Regions from separate parts of the Homo sapiens genome. Here region 1 is linked to region 2. The links come from fine-mapping of genetic effects on gene expression. A gene starts in region 2. The other region holds a variant in brackets. All regions are shown on one strand. Distances are between the middles of the regions. Region 1 has its middle 47 kb from the start of KANTR. Region 2 holds the start of KDM5C (lysine demethylase 5C).

Region 1 (8,334 bases), 84 kb before region 2:
AGGCAAGATCTACCACGCCCGGCATATATATATATATATATATATATATATATATATATATTTTGTTTGTTTGTTTGTTTGTTTGTCTTTGAGATGGAGTTTTGCTCTTGTTGCCCAGGCTGGAGTGCAATGGCACAATCTCGGCTTACCGCAACCTCCCTCTCCTAGGTTCAAACAATTCTCCTGGCTCAGCCTCCCGAGTAGCTAGGATTACAGGCATGTGCCACCACACCCGGCTAATTTTGTATTTTTAGTAGAGACATCTCACTATGTTGCCCAGGCTGGTCTCAAACTCCTGGGCTCCAGCAATCCTCCTGCTTCAGCCTTCCAAATTGTTGGGATTATAAACATGAGCCACTGCACCTGGCCACATTAGTATACTGTTGATGTTGAACCATAACATTCTAAGTGGCCCTAGGATTTTCTTTTCTTGGGTTCTCCCATCCAGTTTTATAATTTAGGTTATACTAACCTCAAAAAGTGGAATAAATAGGTTTTACTTTTGTTATTGTGCATATGATTGGAATTAACTATACCTTGAAGGTTTGCTGCAGCTCACCTACAAAACCCACTGGGGTTTTGAGAGAGAACAGTTCTTTGACTACCATTTTTACTTCTTTAATACTTACTGGACTATTCAAGGCCTTTCTATTTGTGCCATTTTTAGCATGGTGTATTTTTCTAAGAATGTATCATTTATTTTCATCTAGGTTTTTTAATTCATTGGCATGTCATTCATAATTCTTCACTGTTAAAAAATCTATTTTTCTGGTCAGGCTCAGTGGCTCACGCCTGTAATCCCAGCACTTTGGGAGGCTGATCAGTGGCTCACGCCTGTAATCCCGGCACTTTGGGAGGCTGAGGCGAGCAGATCACCCGAGGCTGGGAGTTCGAGACCAGCCTAACCAACATGGAGAAAGCCCGTCTCTACTAAAAAAAAAATACAAAATTAGCCAGACATGGTGGCACATGCCTGTAATCCCAGCTACTCGGGAGGCTGAGGCAGGAGAATCACTTGAACCCTGGAGGCGGAGGTTGCGGTGAGCTGAGATCGTGCCATTGCACTCCAGCCTGGGCAACAAGAGCGAAACTCCATCTCAAAAAAAAAAAAAAAATCTGTTTTTCCCTAGTTATTGCCCCCCTTATCATTCTATATCTTGTTTTTTGTTTTGTTTTTTTGTTTTTTTGTTTTGACAGAGTTTCGCCACCGTGCCTGGCCTATATCTTGGTTTTTTAATTTTCTTTTTGTTTTTTTCTTGATCACTGGTCAGAAGTCTGTCTCTTTTATTGGTCTTTTCAAAGAATCTGCTTTGGTTTGCTTAATTTTCACTGTTATCTTTTGTTCTCTATTTTATTTATTTCTGCCTTATTTCTTTCTTGTTTCTTTGAATTTATTTTTATTTATTTATTTTTTTGAGATGGAGTTTCACTCTTGTTGCCCAGGCTTTAGTTCAACAGCGTGATCTCGGCTAACCACAACCTCCGCCTCCCAGGTTCAAGTGATTCTCCTGCCTCAGCCTCCCGAGTAGCTGGGATTACAGGCATGCGCCACGACGCACAGCTAATTTTGTATTTTTAGTAGAGACAAGGTTTCTCCACGTTGGTCAGGCTGGTCTTGAAATCCCGACCTCAGGTGATCCGCCCGCCTCAGCCTCCCAACAGGCGCGAGTCACCACGCCCGGCCTTTGTTTCTTTGAATTTAGAAATATAGGCTGGGCGCTGTGGTTCACGCCTGTAATCCCAGCACTTTGGGAGGCTGAGGCGGGTGGATCACCTGAGGTCGAGAGTTCAAGACCAGCCTGACCAACATGGAGAAACCCCATCTCTACTAAAAATACAGAATTAGCTGGGCGTGGTGGCACATGCCTGTATTAAAAGTACAAAATTAGCTGGGTGTGGTGGCGCATGCCTGTAATCCCAGCTCCTCGGGAGGCTGAGGCAGGAGAATCGCTTGAACCCAGGAGGTGGAGGTTGCGGTGAGCTAAGATTGCGCCATTGCACTCCAGCTTGGGCAACAAGAGCGAAATTCTGTCTTAAAAAAAAAAAAAAGAAATATAAACAATGTGTCATTGGCACAGAAACAGACAAGTAGACCAATACAACAGCATAGATACAGACACCTGTATATAAAAACCTATTGTATAACAAATCAAGGGAGAAAGGACAGTTGCTTAGTTAAAGGTGTTGAGAAAACTGGCTCATGACAGAGAACAATAAAACTGGATCCCTTCCTCATGACATGTACAAAAATGGATTCTAGGGGCCAGGCACAGTGTCTCAACGCCTGTAATCTCAGCGCTTTGGGAGGTTGTGGTGGGCGGATCACTTGAGGTCAGGAGTTCAAGACTGGCCTGGTCAACCAGACATGGTGAAACACCATGTCTACTAAAAATACAAAAAATTAGCCGGGTGTGGTGGTGTGTGCCTGTAGTCCCAGCTACTCAGGAGGCTGAGGCAGAAGAATCGCTTGAACTCGGAAGGCAGAGGTTGCAGTGAGCCAAGATGGTGCCACTGCTCTCCAGCCTGGGTGACAGAGCGAGACTCCGTCTCAAAAAAAAAAAAAAAAAAAAAAGGAATTCTAGGTAGATTGAGGACCTAAATGTGAAAATAAAACTGTAATGTTAATAGAAATTGTAGGGAGATGTCTGTGACCTAGGGGCTTGGACAAAACTTCAAGACTATAATCCATATGCTGAAGAGATGATTGGATTATAGCAAAATTAAGGATTTGTGCTCAATGAAAGACACTATGGACAAAAGTAAGAGATAATGTGCAGATTGGGAGAGGATATTTGCAATGCATAAACCAACAAGGGATTTGATACCTAGAATATAAAAAGATTTCCTGTGAATCATCAAGAAGAGAGGTTGGGTGTAGTGATTTATACCTGTAATCCCAGTACTTTGGGAGGCTGAAGCAGGAGGATTGCTTGAGGCCAGGAGTTTGAGACCAGCCAGACAATACAACATGACCCTGTCTCTAGAAAAAATAATTTTTTTTTAAATTACCTGGTTGTGGTGGCACATGCCAGTCATCCTAGCTACTTTGGGAGGCTAAGGTGGGAGGATCACATGAGCCCAGTAGTTTGAGGTTACAGTGAGCTGTGGTCATGCCACTGCACTGCAGCCTGGGTGACAAGCAAGACCCTGTTTTTAAAAACAAAACAAAAGAAGGAGGAGGAGGCAGGAGGAAGGGGGAGGAGGAAGGGGAAGGACAAAAGAAGAAGGAAGAAAGAAAAAGAAGACAGCAACGCCAATAGAAAATTAGCCAAAGCATACAATAGTCAATTTGCAGAGGAAGAAATTTGAAAAGCCAGCAGTATATGATGAGGTGTTCAAGATCATTGCAAGTATGAGGAATTAAAATAACAGTGAGATACCAGTTTATCAGCCCGACAAATTTAAGAAGCAGGATAATGCCAAGTGGCGGTGGGGGTGTAAGGACCTACAAACCCTCCTGCATGGCTGATGGGAGTGTGGACTAGGGCAGCTGTTCC[G/A]AAGAGCTGTCTGGAAGTACCTTGTCAAATTAGATATGCATTTACTGGGCCAGGTGCGGTGGCTCACGCCTGCAATCCCAGCACTTTGGAAGGCCGAGGCAAGTGGAGCACCTGAGGTCACTCAGGAGTTCCAGACCAGCCTGGCCATCATGGCGAAACCCCGTCCCTACCAAAAATGCAAAACTTAGCTGGATGTGGTGGTGGACTTCTGTAATCCCAGCTACTCAGGAGGCTGAGGCAGGAGAATCGCTTGAACCCAGGAGGCAGAGGTTGCAGTGAGCCAAGATCACACTACTGCCCTCCAGCCTGGGTAACGGAGTGAGACTCTGTCTCAAAAAAAAAAAAAAAAAAAAAGTATATGCATTTACTGTATGACCCAACAATTCTGTTCCTGGGTACAATAAATCCCAGGGAAGTACACAGATATATAAGGGGCCATATGCAAGGGTGTTCATCACACATTAAGCACAAAAAGGCCAAAAACAAAATGTATGTCCCTCCAAATTAGAAGTTTCCAAGGGCAAAAAAAGTGCAAGCCTTCTCTCATTAAAGTAGAGATTCCTAGTCTGTGTGCCCAGGTACCTGACAGTGCTGCATTTCAGTTCCAGGGGTGAGAGTTATCAATAGTTATAATTTTTAAAATAATGATAAATGTTTTTAAAGTATCTCTAACATTTGTAACTGTGTTTTTCTAGTTTAAAATTATTTTGAAGGCCAGGCGTGGTGGCTCACGCCTGTAATCCCAGTGCTTTGGGAGGCTGAGGCAGGTGGATCACTTGAGGTTAGGAGTTCGAGACCAGCCTGACCAACATGATGAAGCCCCGTCTCTACTAAAAATACGAAATTAGCCAGATGTGGTAGTGCATGCCTATAATCCTAGCTACTCAGGAAGCTGAGGCAGGAGAATCACTCGAACCCAGGAGCCAGAGGTTGCAGTGAGCCGAGATCGTGCCATTGCACTCTAGCCTGGGCAACAAAAGCGAAACTCCATCTCAAAATAAGTAAAATAAAATTATTTTGAAATTATATTTGAACAGTGTGGTGTTTCACACAGTTCCCTCTTTGAACGTCTTGGTCCAGTGCAAGATCTAGTGCATGGCTCCTACTACCAGAGAGGGGCTGTGTGGGGGCTGCAGTATACAGCACTTCTCTGACCTTCTGTGGGAATCATTCGACTTAACCTGATTTTTGCCTTCCTCCTGCTCATCATGATACTTTGTTGGTGTGCATATGTGTAGTATTTAAATACTTTATTAGATTCAATCTGCTCTTTTCACAATTTTTTCTGGTAACATGGAAGCTATATCTTTTATTATCAGAATCAGCATCTATTATTAGGTGCTGCTTTAAAGGAACATAACTGATTTCATTTTCTTAGTTGTTATTCCCCCATTGTTTTACCTTCCCTCCCTCCCTTCCTCTTTCCTTTTTTCTTTCTCTCTGTCCCTCATTCTTTCTTGCTCTCACTCTCCCTCTCCAGTTGCTCCTTCTCCCACTCTCTATTATTGGATTTTTTTTTAACGGCAGCACTTTTATTTTTCCTTACACAATGACGTGTTGCTGGGGCCTAATGTTCTCACATGACGGTAGAAAACCAAAATTTGTTGTCATCTCTTTAAAGAATTTAGAATTATGTAGAAAAAAACCTTACATAAATTAAAAGGATGAATATATTTACAGGTGTAAATCCAAACCGCTTCCAACTCAAGGCAAGTAACAGCCCACGGTGTTCTGGCAGGAAAACATCAGCTAAGAAAGGAAACTGGGTCCTATGGCTTGGACTTTCCAACTCTGACAGACCGGCAGGACAGAAACAACTGGTTCAGGAGCCCTTGCCAGCCTCTAGAGAAATCCCAGAACACTCAGCCCTGATGACACATTAATACCCTGCACATATTGGAGACTGCTGACCACGCATACTCACCAAGCCACAGACTTGTCTTCCACAAGCACGTTCTTACCTCAGCCACAAAGTGCCCAAGCCACATGTACTAAAGGTTGAAATCAGAGACATGTACAGGGTATTAAACAGATACCAAGGGGAACAGTTAACTTGAATATAGCTTGAATAGAAAGTCAAAATCAGCAACAAGTCTACAATCCAGTGCTGATATCAGATACAAGCTTCAAGGACAACTTTCTGTGTATGTTTTTTTTTTTTTTTTTGAGACGTAGTCTCGCCCTGTTGCCCAGGCTGGAGTGCAGTGGTGCAATCTCGGCTCACCACAACCTCTGCCTCCCAGGTTCAAGTGATTCTCCTGCCTCAGCCTCCCCAGTAGCTGGGATTATAGGCGAATGCCACCATGCCTGGCTAATTTTTGTATTTTTAGTAGAGACGGGGTTTCAGCATGTTGGCCAGGCCGGTCTCAAACTCCTGACCTTGTGATCCACCCGTCTCGGCCTCCCAAAGTGCTGGGATTATAGGCGTGAGCCACCACTTCTGGCCACAAATTTCTTTTTGAAGGCTTATTCCAGTTTTGTGAGGCTAGCATGAGGTGTATGCATTTGCCAGGGGCAAATTTATACTGCTGAATTAACCCATGCAACAAATGCTGCACATCTGCTCGCAGTCCATTTAGAGGCATTTGCGGTAGACAATGGAGGGGCCAGACTCATCATACATACCTGATGGCTAACCCACATGCTTGCAGTCCATTTAGAGGCATTTGCAGTGGATGATGGAGGGGCCACATACCTAATTGCTAATCCACATCTGCTGGAAGGTGGACAGTGAGGCCAGGATGGAACCACCAATCCACACCGAGTACTTGTGCTCTGGGGGCATGATGAACTTGATCTTCATGGTGCTGGATGCCAGCGTGGTGATGCCAGGGCACATGGTGGTGCTGCTGGACAGCACTGTGTTGGCGTACAGGTCTTTGCGGATGTCCACGTCACACTTCATGATGGAGTTGAAGGTGGTCTTGTGGATGCCGCAGGATTCCATGCCCAAGAAGGAAGGCTGGAACAGCACCTGCAGACACCAGAACCACTTGTTGCCGATGGTGATGACCTGACCTGGCCATCAGGCAGCTCATAGCTCTTCTCCAGGGAGGAGGAGGATGTGGCAGTGGCCATCTCCTGCTCGAAGTCCAGGGCGATGTAGCACACCTTCTCGTTGATGTCGCGCACAATCTCCTGCTTGGCCGTGATGGTGAAGCTTGGTGAGGATCTTCATGAGGTAGTTGGTCAGGTCCTGGCCAGCCAGGTCCAGACGCAGGATGGCGTGGTGGGAGGGCATGGCCCTCGTAGATGGGTACCATGTAGGTGGCCCTGTCTCCAGAGTCCATGACAGTGCCAGTGATGCGCCCAGAGGCTTAGAGGGACAACACGGCCTGGATGGCCACATACATGGCTGGGGTGTTGAAGGTCTCAAACATGATCTGAGTCATCTTTTCTCTGTTGGCCTTGGGGTTCGAGGGGCCTCGGCCAACAGCACCGGGTGCTTCTCTGGGGTCATGCACAGCTCGTTGTAGAAGGTGTGGTGCCAGATCTTCTCCATGTCATCCCAGATGGTGATGATGCCATGCTCGATAGGGTACTTCAGGGTCAGGATGTCGTGCTTGCTCTGGGCCTCATGGCCCATGTAGGAGTCCTTCTGGCCCATGCCCACCATCACACCCTGGTGCCGGGGTCACCTGATGATGGAGGGGAACACAGCTCAGGGGCCATCCATCCCCAGCAAAGCCAGCTTTGCACATGCCAGAGCCATTGTCAATGATGAGCGCGGCGATCTCTATTTCCATTGCAACCTGTGGAAGAGCAGGGCGGTGGAGCCATGGGAAGACACGGTGTGGGGGCTGGTGGCAGCAAGTGACTGTATTACTGGATTTTGAAGTTAACAATTAGCCAAATACTGATTTTTGATGGAAATTTATTCTTAATTATTTTCTTTTAGAAAAAAATAGGAAAACATATAACAATAGAATTACTTAATTAAATTGATTCCTTGGCTGGGTGGCTACGCCTGTAATCCTAGCACTTTATGAGGCCGAGGAGGGTGGATTAGTTGAGGCCAGGAGTTCGAGACCAGCTTGGGAAACATGGCGAAACCCCATTTCTACTAAAAATTCAAAAATCAGCCAAGCATGGTGGTGCGTGCCTGTAGTCCCAGCTACCCAGGAGGCTGAGGCATGAGAATTGCCTGAGCTTAGGAGGCAGAGATTGCAGTGAGCCGAGATTGTGCCACTGCACTCCAGCCTGGCAGTAGAACCAGACCCTGTCTCAAAAACAAAAAATCTGTCTAGGCTGGGCATGGTGGCTCACGCTTGTAATCCCAGCACTTTGGGAGGCTGAGGCAAGTGGATCACCAGAGGTCAGGAGTTTGAGACCAACCTGGCCAACATGGTGAAACCCCGTCTCTCCTAAAAATACAAAAATTAGCCGGGCATGGTGGTACATGCCTATAATCCCAGCTACTTGGGAGGCTGAGGCAGGAGAGTGGCTTGAACCTGAGAGGCGGAGGTCGCAGTCAGCTTAGATTGCACCACTGTAAAGAAAAGAAAAAAAAAAGTCCATACATGAGTGTAGGGAATACTTTGTGAATTTTTAGACTTTTTATTAACCACCAGAGAATATTTACTACACCTGGGTGTTTTTTAAAGAATACTGTTCTTATTCTGAAATAAGTAGACCGTTTTGCATATGATCAGCCAGTGTCCCTTACACAATTTATTTCATGTAATTTTCATCTTTCCCATGTAAATCTCAGTTCAGCCACTTAGTGGATCCAAGTCTCCAGGCAGCTGCCTTAGTCGTTCTGTGTCTCAAGTACTTTTAATCCATATTGTACAGTAAGGTGAATTTATAGATTTCAAGATCTATAAATTCTATAGAT
Region 2 (8,334 bases):
AGTGTAAGACCGGAAGTCACCAAAAGCAGCTCGGAATCCCACTGGCACCTTCCCAAACCTCTAGCCACTCCAGACCCTTTAACCTGCAAACATCCTACCCAACCACCCACCCCCACCTCCCCCCAGAACTCACAAGAGTCTAGCAGCCCCTCAAGTCTGCACCCAAGGCCCCATGCACATGCCCTAGGAAACTTCTCCTGAGTCCCACCCAACAGTACAGTGCCAGGATTTCAAGAAATTAAGAGATGGAGCCTCTGTTTTGTTGACCCTAAACCTTCTCCACACCCACATTAATTCCTTATCCCCTAGGCACGTGCTGTAGGACACACAGGCCTGGGAGTACTGGAAAGCACACAGGATCTAGAGTCAGAAGATATGGGTTCATGTTCTAGATCCGCTACTTACTAGCTATGAGATTTTAGCTTTCTGAACCTGTTTTCTCATCTGTGAGGTGGGAATATGAACTCTAGCCCTGGCTTCCTTGCCAGACCAATATGGAAAATTAAAACTAGTTTTCAAATGAAAATGTTATTCAAAGGAGTCACCGTTATGACCTGACATCTAAGGCTGACCACACCTCACAATACACATGCAGGGTAGCTCAGGTCCGATTGTGGCAGGACGTAAAGGTTTGGGCCTTTAATGTTTGTTCTCTCAGTTTAAAGGGCCTGAGATAGACACTGCAGGGAAGAGCAAGGAACAGGGAGCAAGTATGTGTATCACTCACCCAGTCTGGAAGGCTTCCTGTAGATCCTCTCTCATACACCTGCCTGGTACAGGAAGAGGCAGGGGAGGAAGCCCCAGGGGGTGGGGGTAAGTGCTGGGATGCCTGACTGTGGTGGCAAAGAATGGGAGGATTTGGGGAGGGAAGTCAGGGAAAGATCATGAAAGTGGGAGACACTCTGCTCTGCCAAGTTGGAGCTTGCTGTGTCCTGCCCAAAGGTCAGCTGTGAAGAACCCCCTCTCCAACACCCCTTTCCAACCTCCTATGCAGACCTCTCCTTCCCAGAGCCCTGGCTCCTGCTGGGGTGGTGAAATCAACCTAAAGTAACCTAAACCAATGTTCTCATTTTATAAATGGGGAAAGTGAGGCTCAGAGAAAAAAAGTGAAATTTCCAAAATTACATGCTGAGTTAGTGGTGGGGCCAAGAACCCACGTCTTCTGACCTCTGATCCAAGGCCTTTGCACTACACCAGACATCAATGTTCATACATACATGCATACACGTGGGCGGGGGGGAGAGACAGTGAAAGAGAAGAAAAACTGTTGACCTCTTCTGCACACACACTTTTAGAAAATGGGCTAGAGGACTCATATTTTGCATGCATACACAGACCACACTCCCCTGCCCCTACCAGCCAAAGCAGGTGGCAAACATCTGGGGCTCAGTAAGCAGGGACAAAAAAAAAAAAAAACAGGCAGGCCAAAATGGTATGGCTCAAATCCAGACAAGCTCCCCATGCCCTCTTGCCTCTCATCAGGATAGGGCACTCCCCTCAGCACAGGTAACCCAGCTAAAAAGGTGCTCAAACCCAAAACTCCGGGCACCCTTCTTTCCTGCTGAATCAAGTTCTAGACAATCAGTGCAACATCAAGCACCTGACAGGAAATGGCAGCCCTGGAATGCTACGGCAGGAGCCATGGATGCAACAGATACCTGGGAAGGCCCTGCAAACCGCCTGCCTTCATCTCCAGACTACTGTATGCCAAATGTATGTTGGTATTACTGGGATGTGGTGATAAAAAAAAGGCTGGCTACCTGATGAAGAAAGCAAGATCCTTCCAAACTCCACTGGGTCTACTCAGGGTACCCACACTCTCCTCCCACCCATCTTTCCCAAGCGTAGCAGTCACCTGCCCAGCAATTCAGGCCCCAAACCATCCTTCCTCCAGCAAACCTCCAATTCCCAGGTACCCACCCATATACAGGTTCCCACCCTGGGCCCAAGCATCACTTGAGCGAGTACTTCAAACTTCAACCAGAAGAAGGCCAGCTGCCTAAAGGTGGCCTAGGAGCTGCCATAGAGAAGGAAAAAACAAAACCAAACCAGAGAGCCAGGTATCCTGGATTAGAGAGAAGCACACTGTTGAGCAGTGAAAAGGACGGCCTCCTGCTGGCCATGCACACCTGGGACATGTCACTCTTCCCCTTCCTGATGCCCCAAAGCAGGGTAACAACACCTACACAAGGCCAGCCTGCCTAAGTCAGTCCAAGATAGAAAAAAGGAATTCAGGCCTCAACTACCCCCTACGTCAGCTATGCCTCTTTTTCCCACAGGCTTGCCCAACCACTTCAGGGAGTGCCTCCTTGAGGCTGCCCAGGACTCCTGCCTCTCCCTTCCACTAGCCTTCCTGACCCTCTACCCACTGCCACTCCCTCACCATGGACAAGGATACCTCAGAAATCTGTGGCCAGACTCCAAGAAGGAAGAAATTCGCTTACCCAACACCTCCTAGAGGATCTATCTGAAACCATCCTAGATCTGTGGCTGAGCACCAGAAAGCACCAAGTTGGATAAGGAGGCCTGTGGTGCCCTCCTCAGGTGGGAATGAAGCTTCCTATTCCATTTCAGCCAGGAGACACCCACTCAAAAACACCCTTTTCCAGCAAAGCTCAATTTCTGCCCTTGGAATCCCAACTGATCACTGAACATTATCATCACTTTTCCACCATATCAGCAAGGCAGCAGCTTGCCCTAGCCCTTGGGAGACTTCTAGCCTGAAGCCAGGCCTAGGAGGAAAGCTATGGCCTTTGTTGCTGACCCCTGGCAATCATGTTCCAAAAGGGACAGAATTCCATGGCTCCATTCTGTTCTGCGGGCCCAAGAGTGCCCTATCCTCTGGGATCTCCTACATCCTGGACCAGAGGAGAGTAGAAATCTTCTGAGAAGGACTCACACCCCACCACCAAGCTGACCGGTCCAAACATCTCCATAGGAAGTCAAGTCTGCGGGATGATGTGCAGAAAAGGCCTTGACATTGCCTTCAACGAGGAAAAGAAGAGGACAATTCCCTGAACCCACCTCAAGGGAGACAGAGCAATCCCTGTGAGACTGATTTCCTGACTGGTCCAGCAGGCCAGGATATTATCATAGATGAATTGGCCTGGCAAGGTATGAGTAAATATGAGTCAACCTACATAGGAATAAACCAATGACCACATCAAACACCCTCACAGTCACAATAATTACCACTTATCTAGTGCGTACTACATACAGACGCTACCTAGTTTAATTCAATCCTCTAAATAACCATTTCTGGGATCCATTTCACGGGCTCAGAGAGATTACTTCTACTTTCCCAAGGTCACACAGCTGCTCAGCTTCAAAGTGGAGTTTTGAACTCAAGTCTGTCTCCCTTCAGGACTGCGATCTTTCTATTAATACTATACTATGCTGCCTGCCTTAAAGGAAGTGATGACAACAGATTGGAGAAACGTCTTATTTTTACAGCCTCGACCTAGGTGGCCCGGGCTAAGAGATGTGCGGGGTGCCTCTCTGTGAACTCCCTCCGGCCCACTAGGAATCCCTGTCTTAAACCCGGAGTGATTCTGAAGGGCCGGGGTGGGGGTGGATCTCTGACTCCAGGTCACCTGTGGGCCTCACACCACGAGAGGACCCCTGGCCCAACACCCTTTTTCCGATCCGCGCCGCAACCACAACGGTCCCAGCCACCCCCTCTCCCCACCTCGAGCTGCCCTCCGCCCCAGACTTCGCCGCTGGCTATCCTACTGCTTCATTCCGTCTCGCCGCCGGCGAAAACCGGCCCCGGGGCTTACCGCGGGTGGGCGGATCTTGCAAATGCCCGATTTCTCTGCGATGGGCCTGATTTTCGCGATGTAGCCAAGAGGGTCTCGGAACTCGGCCCAGCTAGGCTCGAACACCGGGCACTCCGGTGGCGGTAGGAAATCGTCGGACCCCGGCTCCATGGTGGGCCCGAGGTCTGGGCCAGGGATCGGGAGGCTTGGACCGCCCTTAAGGACTCATGGCGCCGCCGCTGTTTGAAGCCGAGGCAATGCTCGGAGGCTAGGCCCTAAGCGGGGCAGCCGCCGCCCGCCGAGGGCCTAAGGGGGCGTGTGGCCGTCGTGCTCTGAGAGTCTCAGGCTGACTCTACTGCTACCGCCTCTTCGTCCCGCTCCGTTTCTTCCAAACTGTGTGGTTGCCTCCCCACTACCGCAGCCTTCGCCACCACAGTTACCTCCCAAACGCCGCGGCCTTCAGCGCCGCCGCCGCCATCTTGGTTTGTCAGCGTCTCCCCTCCCCACACCACAACAAACCGGATCCTTCCGCGGGGTGTCCTTCCGAGCCTCGTATACGTTGCGTCACACCAAGCCCTAGGAAACCTTCATATAGTGGAGACCGAGCTAAATAGGCTGGTATGGGTTTCTATTTGGAAGGGGTTACTCAAAAGTACCACCCCGGACTGAGAGAAAATAGTTCATTGCAACGGCGGAGGAACAAGATTGTAATTAGTTTGCCGGATCGTCTTTCCGGATGGACCGGCGGTGCACGTTTAAAGGCCAGTGATGCGCATGCGCGTTATGGAGACCGGAAGAGGAGCTGGTGTCCGTGGGTGGTGGAGTCAAACCGGCACTCCCCCGCAGACCTCAACCAGGTCGCTAGCCCCGCACCAGTGTTCTCTGTCCCTTCTCCCTGGTCTTAACGGTATGGGCCGCGGAAGGCGGCTCTGGGAGCCTGATTGCAAAGGACCCCTTATGCTGGCCCGCGGGATGGGGGGAGATGTACTAGGCTCCAGCTCTAGACACTGACACCTCTGGGGCTTTGAAATAAGGAAGGCAGGAAGCTGCTCACTCCCCGGGGATTATGGATTTTTAGGATTCTGAGTCCCAAGTAAAGGAAGGAAATCTTTATTTCATCCAAGGTTACAGGTAGAGAGATGGGGTTTCGATTCTTACCCCCCAAAAGTCACTGGGAGTCAGCATTTTAATGAACGCTTTCAACTGTTCTGTATTCACTTTTACCATGTACACATTTGTGGCATATACTCCTACAAAATAAGCCTGTGTGTATGTATACTTTAACTATTGGATGTTTAGCAACGGCGTATTTATCCAGTGTCAACTGTGTAAAACACCTGTTTGCCCATTTGTGAGCCTACAGTGCACTTACCAAACATCCGTGTACTTTTATTGTATTTATTGTGTATAGCCCCTGTGCATTTGGTACCAACTGTATGTACATTTAGTCCTATCGTGTGCATGTTCCTTGAGCAGTTTCTGAATAGGTTCATTGCAACTACAGTACTTTGAATGAGTATCATCAAACCAGTACTTTGTACATATACATCAGGCATCTACTGATTGGAGGATCATCTGTGTCATTCATCAGCTGTGGACCTACTGCATATAGTTTGAACACCTACTGTGCAAATATTTGAGTACTTGCGTACATGCTGATTAAGTAATTTTGTTTTCCCCCATCAGACTATGAATTCCTTAAGGGCAGGGACCATGTGGCCTTATACATCCTTAGCACTTGGCATGTTAAGCAGTAAATGAATGTTGAGTAAACAAAAGAAAAATGAATAAATGTCCTTAGTATATATTGACTGAAAAATATGAATACTTTTTGCAAACATTTCCTGTTTAACATATTAAACATCCACTGTAAGCTCGAGGCAGATAGGGAGTGTCATACCTTCGTGCAGTTAACTGTTCCTAATCAGATACTGTGCCAATTAGGTCCATCCTGCCTACTTCAGGACTGAGCTAAGGACATCCTGGCTGAGGGAACAGGGCACACAGGTAGGAAGGAGCTCATGCCCTGGGCTCAAAAGAGTCATGCCTTGCAGTCCCACCAGCTCTGCCATTTTCTAGTTTGTAACCTTGAACAAGTCCCAACTTCTGTAACTGAAATGGGGATAATACATACCTTGCAGAATTGTTGTGTACTTGGCACATAGCAGGCCCTCAGTATCTGGTAGCTGTTATTTTTATTTCTGAGAGTCAACAACCAATATGCCAAAACTCATTAAGAATCTCCTTTGTGTCAGACACTGTGCTAGTGCTTTTGTATTTTTTTTTTTATCACCTGAATCCTTATATTACCTTGAATGTTCAAGATCTTTATCCCCACTTGGCTCGTGTGGAGACTTGTCCCAAGTGACACAGATATTAAGTGACATCTTTCTAGTTTTCTAGGTGTCAGGGGAAACCTCAGCCCCTCTCCACCAGAAACACAGGTGGATGATCCAACTGAACAGCTGTCTGGACAGGAAGCAGGAAAACTAGGCAAAGTGATGCTAATCACAGTAATATCACTAGCCTCTCACATGGATAAGCATCTAATTGCCTACATGGCTAGTTCATACCAATTATTTCCCTTAATCTTTGCAACAGTCTTCAGAAAGATGTAGGTGAATTTACCCAGTCTGTAGATGAGGAACCAAGTTCCAGAAAGATTAAACAACTTGCCCAATGATACACAGGAAGTTGCTGACTCTGGTCAAATGCTCTTCCTGTCGTTTGCCCTCACCAGGAGTGGAGGAGGTGAGGGAAAAGGGAGCTGCTGGGGTGGGAGGTAGAGTGGTGGGGCAGGGCCCAGTCCTTGGCAATATGGGGCATGCAGGGCCTGGAGCTTGGACTGCCCATCGGGCAGCACCCCCAGGCCACCGTGGCTGTGACCGTGATGGTGGTAGTGGTGGTGGTGCGTGGAAGAAACAGATGAAAAGGAGGCAGAGGCCTGGCCAGAGAAGGGTGAGGAGAATCTAGAAGGTGGGAGAATACGGTAGATCTTAGGCCGAAGGAAGTTCAGCCTTTCCATCTAGAGGCTCAAGGAAGTACAAAGAGCATGAATCAGGAATCAGGAGGCCAGATTTTGGGTCTCAGCTCTGCACAGTCTTCCTACAGCCTTCTTTGAGGTCCTTTAGCCCAGACACACCCGTCCTAGAAGATTAAATAGAAATTATGTAGTCTTTGAAGCCAATGAGATAGAATTTATTCGTTTACAAATATTTATTAAATTTCTACTATGCACCAGCAAATTTTCTGGGCACTGGGAATATAATGGTGACCAAGACAGATGTAGTCTCTACTTTCCTGGAGCTGACATGCACCCACTGAGATCTGCCAAGTACCTCATCTTCCTGAGCCTTGATTTTCTCCTTTGTATAATGAAGCTAAATAATCCCTTCCTCACAGTGTTGTTAGGAGGATTAGAGATAATGATGACTGCCATTCATCAAGGGCCAGGTGCTATGAAGTAGGTATTGTTATCCCCATCCTACAGATGAGGAAACTGAAGCTCAGGGAAGTGTAAACTTACTCAAGTCACATGGCTAGTAAGTGGCAGGACCAGAACTCAAACCCAGGTCTGTCTGACTGCCGTACAATTCTGCCTGTAAGAGTCTCAGATGGTGCTCCCCATGTAGTAAGGCATTCAGGAAATGGGTTTGTTCCCCAAGCCATGGGTCTTGCTGGGGGACAACCGGAGTCTAGACGCTGGGGACTTAAGAATTGGGATGCATCAGGAAACTCACTCCAGGCTGGGGGCTGGCTTGGCCTCACCCATCCACCCGGGAGACAGGGTCTGACATGGAGTTGGTGCAGAGCAGTGACTGGAAGGCTCGTCTGGGCTCAAAACCACACGCACCCCATTCATGTTTTGTGGATCAACTGGGCTGACACTGACTTTGTGTCTCACTTTTTTTGGTTTGTAAAATATGATCTCTTCCAGTTCTGAAGTAGGTTTAAGCTGTTGGTTCTGATTCCTAAATAGCTCTAGAATCCATCCCCTCCTCCTTGCCATCTTCCACTCCTCCTGTGAGCCTTTTACTGTCTCTAGCCTGGACTCTTAAAAGAGCCTCCTCAAGGTATCTGTGTGAACTCATGGTTTATTAGACAGAGACAGAGAAATATCGATGTCTAGTATAGAAATATAGATGTATAGTATGTGCTTATACATATACATAACAATAAAATGATTTATCCAAAGTAATGTTAATTCAAAATGAATTATGATAGTAGTGGATTACAACTCACTGGTTAAAATAAAAATCCATGACTCCACATTGATATAAGTAAATAAAGTGAGAGAAAAGGGAAAGTAGAATTCTAAATTATATAGAAGGAATGATGGAGCTAGAAATCATCAATGGATGCTCAAACCTTTGCAAAATAAAAGAGCAAGCTCTTAAAATATTGCTGTAACACCTAGTGCCCAAATCTTGGTTTCTAAATGTCATTCTCTACTAAAAAGAACCGGGGCTCCTTGGAAGGGCTCAGAAAAAGATGGAGATGTGCCACAGGACACAGGGGCTTAGAGGGCTTCCTACTGGCCAAATCTGGGGCTGTGAACATCAAAATAAAGAATGAT

The links. PIP is the estimated chance that this variant, and not a neighbour inherited with it, causes the effect.
Region 1: its variant is fine-mapped to the expression of KDM5C in whole blood (TOPMed, PIP above 0.99).

What each region holds. Positions count from the first base shown.
Region 1 is chrX:53,136,671-53,145,004 of GRCh38, forward strand. It overlaps a transcript of KANTR not described here and the pseudogene ACTG1P10. Among named protein-coding and RNA genes, the nearest start is that of KANTR, 47 kb to the left of the region's middle. The variant G/A (reference allele first, on the strand shown) is at 3,498.
Region 2 is chrX:53,220,961-53,229,294 of GRCh38, forward strand. It overlaps KDM5C (lysine demethylase 5C), which reads right to left and starts at 4,247. Exons shown (of 26, transcript NM_004187.5): 1 at 3,780-4,247. The coding sequence starts at 3,929. It also overlaps a transcript of IQSEC2 not described here. RefSeq lists enhancers at 3,789-3,888, 4,129-4,508, 4,347-4,641, 4,519-4,568.